Homo sapiens: one gene and its partners. The protein of the gene in region 1 interacts with the protein of each later gene in a pairwise test. Each region holds a gene or a part of one and is shown in the gene's direction. Other genes may lie near its edges. The genes, in order: DHX37, PLXNA2 and RGS17.

Region 1 (3,651 bases):
CCCAGTGACTGTGCATTTCAACAAGCGGACACCGCTGGAAGACTACAGTGGCGAGTGCTTCCGGAAGGTCTGCAAGATCCACCGGATGCTGCCCGCAGGTGAGGCCCTGGCCAGGTCAGGGGAAAGAAGCCTCCCTTCCTAAACCCTCGCTGAAAGCACGAGTGTGGGAGGGCCCATCTCCGAGTGGCTCAGAAAAGTCCCTTGACCCTGCCAGGCCTCGGCTTCCTCACTTATTCCAGAGTGTTCATGACACCTGTCTGGCCTTATTCCACTCCAAATACTATGAGGCTTCAGCAGCTACCAGATGGTGGAGCTTGCCATCTGTCCCCATCTGATAAGCAGAAAAACCCACAGGGCCCAGGCCAGTGCTGGCAGGTGACCATAGACACTGTAGGGGAACGGGCACATCCCCCCAAGAGTCACGGATACCCTTCACAGTTCTGCCTTGTCCCCATCATACCTGCTCCGTTACCCACCTCATGTTACTGAAATGGATGTGACCTTTCTGTGTGAATAGATTGTGATCGCTTCCAGCCAGACTTTTTTTTTTTGAGACGGAGTTTTACTCTTGTTGCCCAGGCTGGAGTGCAGTGGCAGATCTTGGCTCACTGCAACCTCCACCTCCCGGGTTCAAGTGATTCTCCTGCCTCAGCCTCCCAAGTAGCTGGGATTACAGGTCCCACACTGGTCGCACACTGCCACGCCTGGCTAATTTTTTGTATTTTAGTAGAGATGGGGTTTCATCATGTTGGCCGGGCTGGTCTCGAACTCCTGACCTCAGGTGAGCTGCCTGCCTCAGCCTCCCAAAGTGCTGGAATTACAAGTGTGAGCCACTGCACCCAGCCTAGCCAGAGACTCTTGTGTGCCGAATTTGGGCCCAAGGCTGGCTTTCTTCATGTTAGGGAGGCAAGGAGCCATGGGGGTGCTTCCCAACAAGCTTGACCTCGTCCTTCAAGGAAGCCGAGGTTGCTGCTTCGTGATGCTCTGTCCTTGCTCTGCTTATGGCCTTTCGGGGCTCCCATCCATTCTCTGGGAGACTGGGGCTGGCAGGAGGTGAGGCTGGAGCTTGGGCAGTGAGCCTTCCTGCAGCCTCAGGTCTCAGGGCAGCCGCGGCGCTGTCACTGTCGTGAGTGTGGTGTGCAGGGTTCCGTGTGAGCACGCTTCTCAGGGCTTTTGGGTCTGTTCCTGGGAGTGATGCTGCTGGGCTGTGCAGTCGCCGTGTTTGTTGAACTCCCTGGCGGCAGCTGCTTCAGTCTGGGCGTGCTGCCCCCTGCTCATCTATGTCTGTGTACTCCTGTCCTCCCCCATTATCCCTGGAACCTTGCCTCTCAGAGCATGGCTTGGCAGGTGCTTTTGCTAAGCAAATGTTTGTGAGTGACTGATGGATAACAGAGGGGCCCATTCTTTCCACAGGTGGCATCCTGGTGTTCCTGACGGGGCAGGCTGAGGTGCATGCGCTGTGCCGCAGGCTCAGGAAGGCTTTCCCACCCTCCAGAGCCCGGCCACAAGGTAAAGAGGACGCCCCGACCAGCACTCTGCCCTGAGCAGCTGGGCTTGGCCTCGCGCTCCCTGGCTGGGGTGCAGCTCCTGCCTCTGAGCTTCTCTCTGGAAGCATCAGCACCTTTGCCATCCCCCACCTCACCCCCGAATAAATGGCCACCACTGAGTGGCCATGCCTTGAACAACAAAGGGCAGTGTGCTGGCGACCACGCCGGCCACAGACGCCTTTCTCCCCAACCTGCCCCTCTCCCAGAAAAGGACGACGATCAGAAAGACTCGGTGGAGGAAATGCGGAAGTTTAAGAAGTCAAGGGCCAGGGCCAAGAAGGCGCGGGCTGAGGTACGTGGGGGGCTGGCAGGGACTCCTGGAGAGTAAGGCTGCGTTGTCCAGGATGGCAGCTACCAGCCCCATGTGGCTGCTTAGGTTTAAGTGTAATTGGAATAAAATGAAGTTAAAAATCCAGTTCCTGGTCAGGCACAGTGGCTCATGCCTGTAATTCCAGCACTTTGGGAGGCCAAGGTGGGAGGATCGCTTGAGGCCTAGAGTTTGAGACCAGCTTGGGCAACATGGTGAGACCATGTCTCTACAAAAAATTTTTTAGATTAATCCAGTGCAGTGGCGCATGCCTGTGGTCCCAGCTGCTCAGAGGCTGAGGTGGGAGAACCATCTGAGCCCAGGAGGTCAAGGCTGCAATGAGCTGTGATGGTCCCACTGCACTCTAGCCTGGGCAACAGAGTGAGACTCTGTCTCAGAAATGGAAAAGAAGGCCAGGCGTGGTGGCTACGCCTGTAATCCCAGCACTTTGGGAGACTGAGGCAGGTGGATCACCTGAGGTCAGGAGTTCAAGTCCAACCTGACCAACATGGCGAAACCCTGTCTCTACTAAAAATACAAAATTAGCCAGGCATGGTGGTGTGCACCTGTACTCCCAGCTACTCTGGGATGGCTGGGCTGGCAGGGGCTTTCCTCTAGCCTCTGCGTGAAGGCACCGTGGGTCTTGTGCTCCGTGACGGTAGCGTAAGCACTCAGCCGTCTCTGACTTGCCTGTTGCACTACCGATGTGTCAGGCAGCGATCCAGGTTCCTCACGTGTGTTCACACAACCCTCCCACCAGCCTGGGAGACAAGGTCTATGATAGTCCCCAATGTTTAGGTGGGGAAATTCTGGCAGGAAGAGAGAATTATGTGGCCTGCCCCGGGTTGCATGGCCCATGGGTGTGGACCGGGGCTTCCATGCGAGGGCACCTGTCTTCCTGCACGTGCCACGTCCTCACACCCAGGATCCCTGCAGCCCAGGTGTCTATGTCTTGTTCGCCGTAGGTGCTGCCCCAGATCAACTTGGATCATTACTCGGTGTTACCGGCAGGCGAAGGCGATGAGGACAGGGAGGCAGAAGTGGATGAGGAAGAGGGGGCCCTGGACTCCGACCTCGATCTGGACCTGGGGGATGGCGGGCAAGATGGAGGTGTGGCCCGAGCACCGATTCCTGCTCATGTTCATTATCTCTGCCCTGAGGATGTGCCCAGAGCCCTTGTGGGCCCCCCGGGGGCCGGGGTTCTAGCAGCTTTGTCCCCGATGCTTCCTGAGTTCTTGAAACTGCCTGGCACGAGGAGGCCTCAAACATTTGCCATGTTGAATGTAATGGGGGCTGCCAACCCCTTGCTGAGGGACGCAGGCCTTCAGAGCCTGGGGGTGTTGCCCAGCTCCGTGTGCTCGCAGGGGCCCCCTGAATGCAGGCAGACCCAGTGCCCTGCTGTGCCCAGCCAGGGGCTGAGTGGGGCAGCAGAGAGTACCCCAGTACGGGCTCAGCCTGACCCCACCACAATGCTGCCAGGACACGAGGAGTGGAGTCAGGCTCCCGGGATCCATGCCAGGGGTTTGGAGGAGGAGATTGTGCAGCACAGGGGTTCAGATCCGGTTCAGGGCAGCAGAGACAAGAGAGCCCCTGGGAACCTCTCAGCAGTTCCCCCAGGCTTGGCCTGGCTGGTCCCAAGGGGAGCCTCTGCAGCAGGGCAAAGAAAGGAGCTCTGGTGGAGCAGCCTGGGGGTGCAGGGCCGCTGTGGCCAGCTCCTGCCTGTGGGCATCTGTCCCGGCCTGGGTGCCAGTGACCTCTGCTTTCCCTCCAGGTGAGCAGCCGGATGCCTCCCTCCCG
Region 2 (3,651 bases), on another chromosome or scaffold:
CACCACCCGCCCGATGACTCTGCCCTGTGTGCCTTCCCTATCCGGGCCATCAACTTGCAGATCAAGGAGCGCCTGCAGTCCTGCTACCAGGGCGAGGGCAACCTGGAGCTCAACTGGCTGCTGGGGAAGGACGTCCAGTGCACCAAGGCGGTAAGGAGGCACACACCTCGCTCTGCTCCTGCTCCATGACACAGGTTCCAACCTTCCTGTCCATGCCCTGGGGCACATCTGCTCCCACACCACCATGGACCTGAAATGAAAGAGGTTTTCAGACTCAGGTTATCAGGTGGTAACCAATAACGCAGGGTCTTACGTACACCAGATACTTGAGATATGTGTGTTGATTTGTTGTCATTTCAAATATATGTATTGAGTGCCTACATCACATCAGGTGCTATTGTAAATGCTGCAGGCTTCAGCTGTGAACCATACAACCCTACAAAGCTCACTGCCCTCATGGAGATTACACGCTAGTTGGGTGAGACAAATGAACACATAATACATGTTAGTTTGCCAAATGGTGATAATGGCTATAGAGAAAAATAAACAGGAAAGGGGGAGAGGCAGTAGCTGAGAGGACTGACTCATTGAGAAAGTGGTGTCTAAGCAAAAACTGAGGATGGGAAGAAAGGGAGCCACACAAGTGTCCAGAGAAAGCATTCCAGAGAGAGAAAGGGTGAGGAGAATGTGCAAAGAATTCAGGGCATGCCTGGAGTGTCTGAGGAACAGTAAGGAGGCAACTGCAGCCAGATCAGAGTATGTGAGAGAAAGAGCAGCAGGTGATGGGGTCCATCAGAAGTAATGGGGACCAGGTCATGTACACACAGAGCTGTAGGCCACTGTGGTTCCCAGTGAGGGGGTCAAGTGGAGATCAGAAATCTAAGTCAGAGGAGAGGGAAGGGAGTCTGGCTTGACCAACTGATGGAAAACTGGAGAAGAATCAGGAGTGTGGGCAAAGGCAAAAGAGGAGAGGATGAAAAGCTCAGAATCCAGACCTGAGGAAAGCAGAGACAAGAAAATCAGTGGCAAGCACTGCCCTGTCAGCGGCTCATGGTGCTGCCATCAAAGTATTCATGATCCACTCTTCTTCCATCATTCATCCAACCATCCAATCATCCATTCATTTATCCACCCATCTCTCCTTTCATCCATCCCCTTTCCTTCCCTCCTTTTATTCTCCTATCCATCTATCCCTCCATCCTCCTTAGCTCTCTCCCTCCATGCATCTCTCCATCCATCCATCCATCCATCATCCATCCATCCATCTATTCACCTATTTACCTAAACCTCCATTCATCTGTCCCTGATCCTTCCCTTCATTCTTTCCTCCATCCCTTCCTCCATCCCTTCATCCATCTCTTTATCCACTCATCCCTCTTTTTTCTCCCTTAATCTATGTCTCCATATCTTTATCTATCCATCATCCATTTGTCTACCTAGCCCTCCATCTATCCATTCATCCCTCTCTTTATTCATCCACCATCATCCATCTACCCATCCCTCTATTCATTTACAAGTAGTATTGAAGATCTTCTGAATGCCTGGCACTGTACTAGGCACTGGGGTTGCAAACATAAAAAGACATGATCGGCTGGGTGCGGTGGCTCACACCTGTACTCCCAGCACTTTGGCAGGCTAAGGTAGGCAGATTGCTTGAGCTCAGGAGTTCGAGACCAGCCTGGGCAACATGACAAAACTCCGTCTCTACAAAAATTCCAAAAATTAGCTGGGTGTGGTGATGCACACCTGTAGTACCAGCTACTCTGGAGGCCTGAGCATGGGAGGTGGAGGTTGCAGTGAGCCAAGATTGTGCTACTATACTCCAGCCTGGGTGACAGAGTGAGACCCTGTCTCAGAAAAAAAAAAGACATGATCACTAGTCTCACAGATCTTATAATCTAGTAGGGGGAAGAGAGAGAGAGAGAGGAAGAGAGAGAGAGCTAGAGACAGCTGGCAACATAATGTAGTGGCTCAGAGTTTGAGGTTCTGAGACAAAAGCCAGGCTTCAAATTCCATCTGTGTTTCTTCCTGCCTTCTTCAGAAGCACCTTAGCATCTCTACATTCTTATCTGTGAGATGGAAATAATAATGCCTAGCTCATGGGATGATCAGATGAGATAATACATGGAGAGATTAGCACCATGCCTGGAAATGTTAGGTTTATTATTACACAGGGAGTTAACAGGGAGTGTGAGAAGTGCAAAAGTAGGTTTCTTGTACACAGTGCTGAGGGCTCTGGATCTGCAACCTAGAAAAAAATATATGAGACCAAGGGGCCCATACGGCTACCTTCTGAGTACTCTAAATTGAAGGTGCCTGCCGTTGGGACCAAGCACCAGTACTTGAAGCAAGAAAACATCATTCCAAGGCTACGCTTCTATTCCTGTCATCATTTGCTTGGTGTGGTAGAAGAGTCGTGGTTAAGGCTTTGAAGTAAACCAGATGGGGATTAAAAATCAGTCCTACCACTTACTCCTTGTGTGACTTTGGGCAAGTTATGTACCTGGTCTGAGCTGTAAATTTTTCGTCTTTAAAATAGAGATAATATTGTCTTCTTTTCATGGTTATTATGAGGATCAAATGGAAAATTTATGTAAAGTGCTTAGCACAATACCTGGAACATAATAAGCATTCAATAAATGGGCCGCTATGATTATTAATATTAATCACAGTAGTAAAGAGCCAGCTATTTTCTTAGTTATCTTACTGTTGTAAAATGAGGAAGCTAGACTAGATAGTCTTTGGTTTTTTTTTTTTTAACGCCAAAATTTTATGGCCACTGGCCGTAACCAATGTGGAGAGGTGGAGAGGAAATGTAACCCTCCGTAAGGGTTAAATGCTTGCAGAGTCCAGCCTAGTTCCCATAACCCAGAGGGGGCCTTGTCAGGAGGAAACTGCTGATTCCTGCCTGCTTCTGAGCCAGAGGAAAGAGGAAGATGACACTCTTCTCTGCTCCAGAGCAGAGGGACAAGCCTGGGCTAGTTACAAAAGGATAGCAAAGGCACTGGGAGAGAGGTGACAGTGAGTGGGGCCAGGACCTTAGAGTGGAGAGCCCCTTGCCTCCACCCCTTCAGCACCACACCCTTCTGGTGCAAGGGCTGCAAGAGGAATGGCCCCTTAAAGACCCTGATACTCCAAAGAACTAAGACCCAGGGACCCAGAAATATTTTGGTGGCCTTAGAGGGGAATAAGGATAAATGAAAGAAGCTGTGGTCCCAGAGCTTGATTTTAACATGACTCTGGAATAACATGGAAATCTCAGATCAAAAATTTGAGCTCTGATCCCAGAAAAGAGAGGAAGAAGGGGGCTATCACTCATTGAATAGCAGCTAGTCCTAAAGGCTAAGCTTGGCAATTTAAGTGTTATCTCACTTGCTCCTCACAATGACCCCATAAAGCAAGAGTTATCTTCCCCATTTTACAGATTAAAAAACAAAGGCTCACAAAGACTAAGTAAGTTGCTCAGATCTCCACAGCTATAAGTGATAAAGCGGGGATTTGAATTTAGTTCGGCTGTATTACTTCTTAGTCCAGTCTCTCTCTATTGAGCCCTTCTGTTTCCAAGGAAAGCCATACACCAAGCTCTCACCATTTGAGCAAAAGTAAAGGTGCATCAGGTGTTTGGGAATATCTAACAATATATTGAAAAAC
Region 3 (3,651 bases), on another chromosome or scaffold:
TCCCAGAGTTACCATGGCTACTGGTAAGTTTTATCTTCTTTGCAACCATTTTAACAGTTTTTCTTAAGAACCAATTGTTTTCCTTACAATAGAAGAGTGTCTTCCAAAATAGACCCTGCGCATATCCATGATGACAGATCAGTAGATAAACTGTATAATTGGCAGCAGGTAATGTTTTTTCTCACTCCACTGTCCACACTCCCCTGTAAACAAACAATCCACCCCCATAGAGAGGGGGCACATTTTCTTAAGTTCTCAAATGTCACAAGTATTTTTCCTCCCTTTTCAAAGTCACTATTTAGAAAATCTCTAATGGGATTTTAAATGCTTATTTTAGTATATTTGGCCAAGGATATTGGCACTTTTCTTCCATAAAGTATTTAAGGTTTGATCAAGACCCTCACAGTGAGCACTGTGTATGTGTTTAGTTCTCTTTGTGGCTTTTATTGCTTAAAAAGTAGAAATGTTAGTTTTAAATGTTACATACATAAAAGTCAGTGGGGGAGTGTCTCTTCTTGGAGAGATATGGGCTAAAAAGAAAAAACAAGACATGTAATCCCAGCATTTTGGGAGGCCAAAGTGGGTGGATCACAAGGTCAGGAGTTCAAGACCAGCCTGACCAACATGGTGAAACCCTGTCTCTACTAAAAATACAAAAATTAGCTGGGCATGGTGGCGGGTGCCTGTAATCCCAGCTACTCAGGAAGCTGAGGCAGGAGAATCACTTGAACCCGGGAGGCGGAGCTTGCAGTGAGCTGAGATCATGCCATTGCACTCCAGCCTGGGCAACAGAGCAACACTCCGTCTTAAAAAAAAAAAGAAAAAGAAAAAGAAAAAAAAAAGTGTCTCTATGGGACCCTCAAAACTGTTGATCTGGTATTTTCCTTTTAGGGCTTTCCTCAAACACATATAACATATATAAGTTGGTCTAGAGCAAATATTTCCAGTGAATTAATAAAAACAACAACAACAATGCACTACTTGGAGCAGGACCAGGTAGGACAGACATTAGTCAATATCAAGACAGACAAACTGTTAAGTATTAATCCCTTGTCTATTTTCTCCATTTCTCTTTAACTTAAAATGGTATTTTCAGCAGTTCTTGATAACTGAAACCTTGAAACCCATTTTTTAAGACCGGTAGTAAAGGACAGTTAATAAAAAGGACAATTTGTCTGTTGCCAAAGTTCAATTTCTACAGGGCAAGACTGTGGCCAATAGTAGATCAAGAGCTGCACAGTGAATAGTTAAACATTTACTGAATGTCTGTTGTAAGTAGTTTTAGTCCAAATGTGTGTCCATATTTTACCACCTGTAGAAAAGAAAGATGTAAACTCAACCTAATATTTCGTAATGATCGCTCTAATATGGTAGCATTTGGGATGTTTGTAAATATCACAGAAACAGATAGAAGAGCCAGAATTCATGTTCAGAAACTCGTGATTCATGCCTGTAGACTCCAGATTTGTCACTCTACGGCAAAGGCACAACGGAGAAAAAAATTTCTCAAAGATGTTTAATGAAATGAAGTATACCTGCGTCATGTGTACTGCCTTCTGTAGAACACTGTGTGGAAATGTAATAAAAATAAACTCAAGGAGTTTATTATTTAAGCAGGGGATGAAAGCTCTTTTGCTAGTTGTGTTATAGTGCCTTAATATGTGTTTGCACACACACATAGAAGCTCAATAAAGGTTGACAGAATGAGTATCAATTTCCTATTTTAAAAAGAGCTGAATAGAATTTACCAAAAAATTGTACATTTTATATATACAGGAAGTTTTACAGAATATTGTCAGCAGTGTATCCCCCCCCATCCACTTTTCCCATCATGACTGGAAATACATCAAATTCCAGAGAAGAACTTTCTTACTCATTCATGAATCTCCTCTAAAATACTTATCTGGCCTATTTGTATAGTGACATAGAGGACTGAGGTTTCCCAGGCTATCTCAAACCTCAGACACATTCACAGCACTCACACGCAAATACCTCCAAAATTATGCACTGTCTCTGAATTCCTCCCCAAAATTACACTACGCTAAAGGCTTTGCTGTCTCTAACCCTGGGACTGCTGCCTCCAGCAGGGGTCTAGTCAATGTGCAGCAGGTCCAAGGGACCATCCACTCTAGTTTCTGCTCCCCAGAATCCTTCTGGGCTACATTACCTTTCCCTCCATGGTTCGACACCAATAAACCTGCCCCTGTCCCTAGAAATGGGTAGAGGCAAACTCAATGTATTTCACTATGAAATCCTATGTTTTCTATGTCCTTTTCCTGACTACAGAATCCTTTTCAATTCCTATTGGGTTCTCCTTTTTCCAGTGAGTCTGCTCTCTCAGGTCAGTTTTCCTATCTAGCCTCACTTTCCATTGTAGATGGGCCCGCTTGTCAGAAATTAATATTTCCCTTTGCTCCATTCTCTCCGTCCTCACGCTTGCACTTGAGAATGAAAGAAGGAATTAAGGAGACATTGTCTTGGTTTCTCTTATCAGACTTTCCAGATTGAGAATAACTGCTTGTTGGGCACCTCTTCCTAAACACTTTCTTTCCATACCAACGATGTTTAGTGACCCTTCTTTGCATTCACATAGTAAGTGGTCTATGACCTCAGTGTCTATCAGCAGCCATGGTTCATAGCAGGCACTCAGAAATACAGGGTTGTTGAACAGGGTAGGCTTCCAATTCCAACTATAGCACCTATTTAGTGTTCGGTTTTGGGCCAGCCTCCCAGACGGGTCTGCACCTCACTTTGCTCATCTGTAAAATGGGGATAATAATATTAATGGTAAAAGAATGGTGCCCAGCACATAACAGGCACTAGAAAATCATCATTTCCATTGCTTCTTATTTTGAGTAAGTAAGTGAAAGAAGGAACAAATGAGAGATGTTATCTGAACTTCTTGTGCTCTCTGCCAGGCTCTTAAGCTCCTCGGCTTCTAGACAGAGGGATCAGTTGGCTAATTTGGGAGCTCAAATTTTCCCGAGCCACTGAGTTATTCTCCCTACCCTGCTTCTTAGTATCTCCCATGACCTCACCTGTTGTTTCTAGTCCACACCGAGAGTTTTCGGTGTTTTGCCCTAAAGCACTGCTCAGCTTTAGGGAGCAATTGTCATTGGACAATTCTTATTCTTATTCTTGTTCTGGGCTACTAAAACCTTCGGCATTATCCTCTGTCCTCTATGATGCTGTAGAATTCCCAAACCTATGCTACACAGACACACACCCCTCCCACCCAATGCTCACCTGTTCCAAATGCTCAGTTACTGGTCTGTCCCTTTCAAGACCTTGGACATTGATTTACTGGGGTGAAAGGGCAAAAACAAAGTCAAATATAAATCCGGTAGCTTGATTTTAGCAATTGAAGGAATGATATTATCGGTAACAATGTAAATTTAGCAAAATCTGTATTAGATTCTGACACATTGTATCTTATTAGCTCTCAATCGGGGAAAATTAATGGAAAACAGACTATGAATAGAATTAACCAAAAATCAAAATGACATTTTGTTTAAAGAGTAAGGTAATCATATGTGTGTGTGTGTATATACATATATATATAATATTAAGGCATTTAATCATATATCTCAGAAATATTCAGTAATTCAGATTATGTAAGGATGAAGTCAGAATATTTAACAATATCCACTT

The links.
Region 2: the proteins of DHX37 (region 1) and PLXNA2 interact in a two-hybrid assay, tested with the Homo sapiens proteins (one large-scale study listed by IntAct).
Region 3: the proteins of DHX37 (region 1) and RGS17 interact in a two-hybrid assay, tested with the Homo sapiens proteins (one large-scale study listed by BioGRID).

The regions. Positions count from the first base shown.
Region 1 is NC_000012.12:124,964,981-124,968,631, reverse strand, and holds part of DHX37 (probable ATP-dependent RNA helicase DHX37), read left to right. Parts: coding exon 1-98; intron 99-1,413; coding exon 1,414-1,509; intron 1,510-1,753; coding exon 1,754-1,839; intron 1,840-2,819; coding exon 2,820-2,964; intron 2,965-3,625; coding exon 3,626-3,651. UniProt on the Homo sapiens protein: ATP-binding RNA helicase that plays a role in maturation of the small ribosomal subunit in ribosome biogenesis. Required for the release of the U3 snoRNP from pre-ribosomal particles.
Region 2 is NC_000001.11:208,213,234-208,216,884, reverse strand, and holds part of PLXNA2 (plexin-A2 precursor), read left to right. Parts: coding exon 1-150; intron 151-166; exon of another isoform or gene 167-250; intron 251-3,651. UniProt on the Homo sapiens protein: Coreceptor for SEMA3A and SEMA6A. Necessary for signaling by SEMA6A and class 3 semaphorins and subsequent remodeling of the cytoskeleton. Plays a role in axon guidance, invasive growth and cell migration.
Region 3 is NC_000006.12:153,026,766-153,030,416, reverse strand, and holds part of RGS17 (regulator of G-protein signaling 17), read left to right. Parts: intron 1-3,651. UniProt on the Homo sapiens protein: Regulates G protein-coupled receptor signaling cascades, including signaling via muscarinic acetylcholine receptor CHRM2 and dopamine receptor DRD2.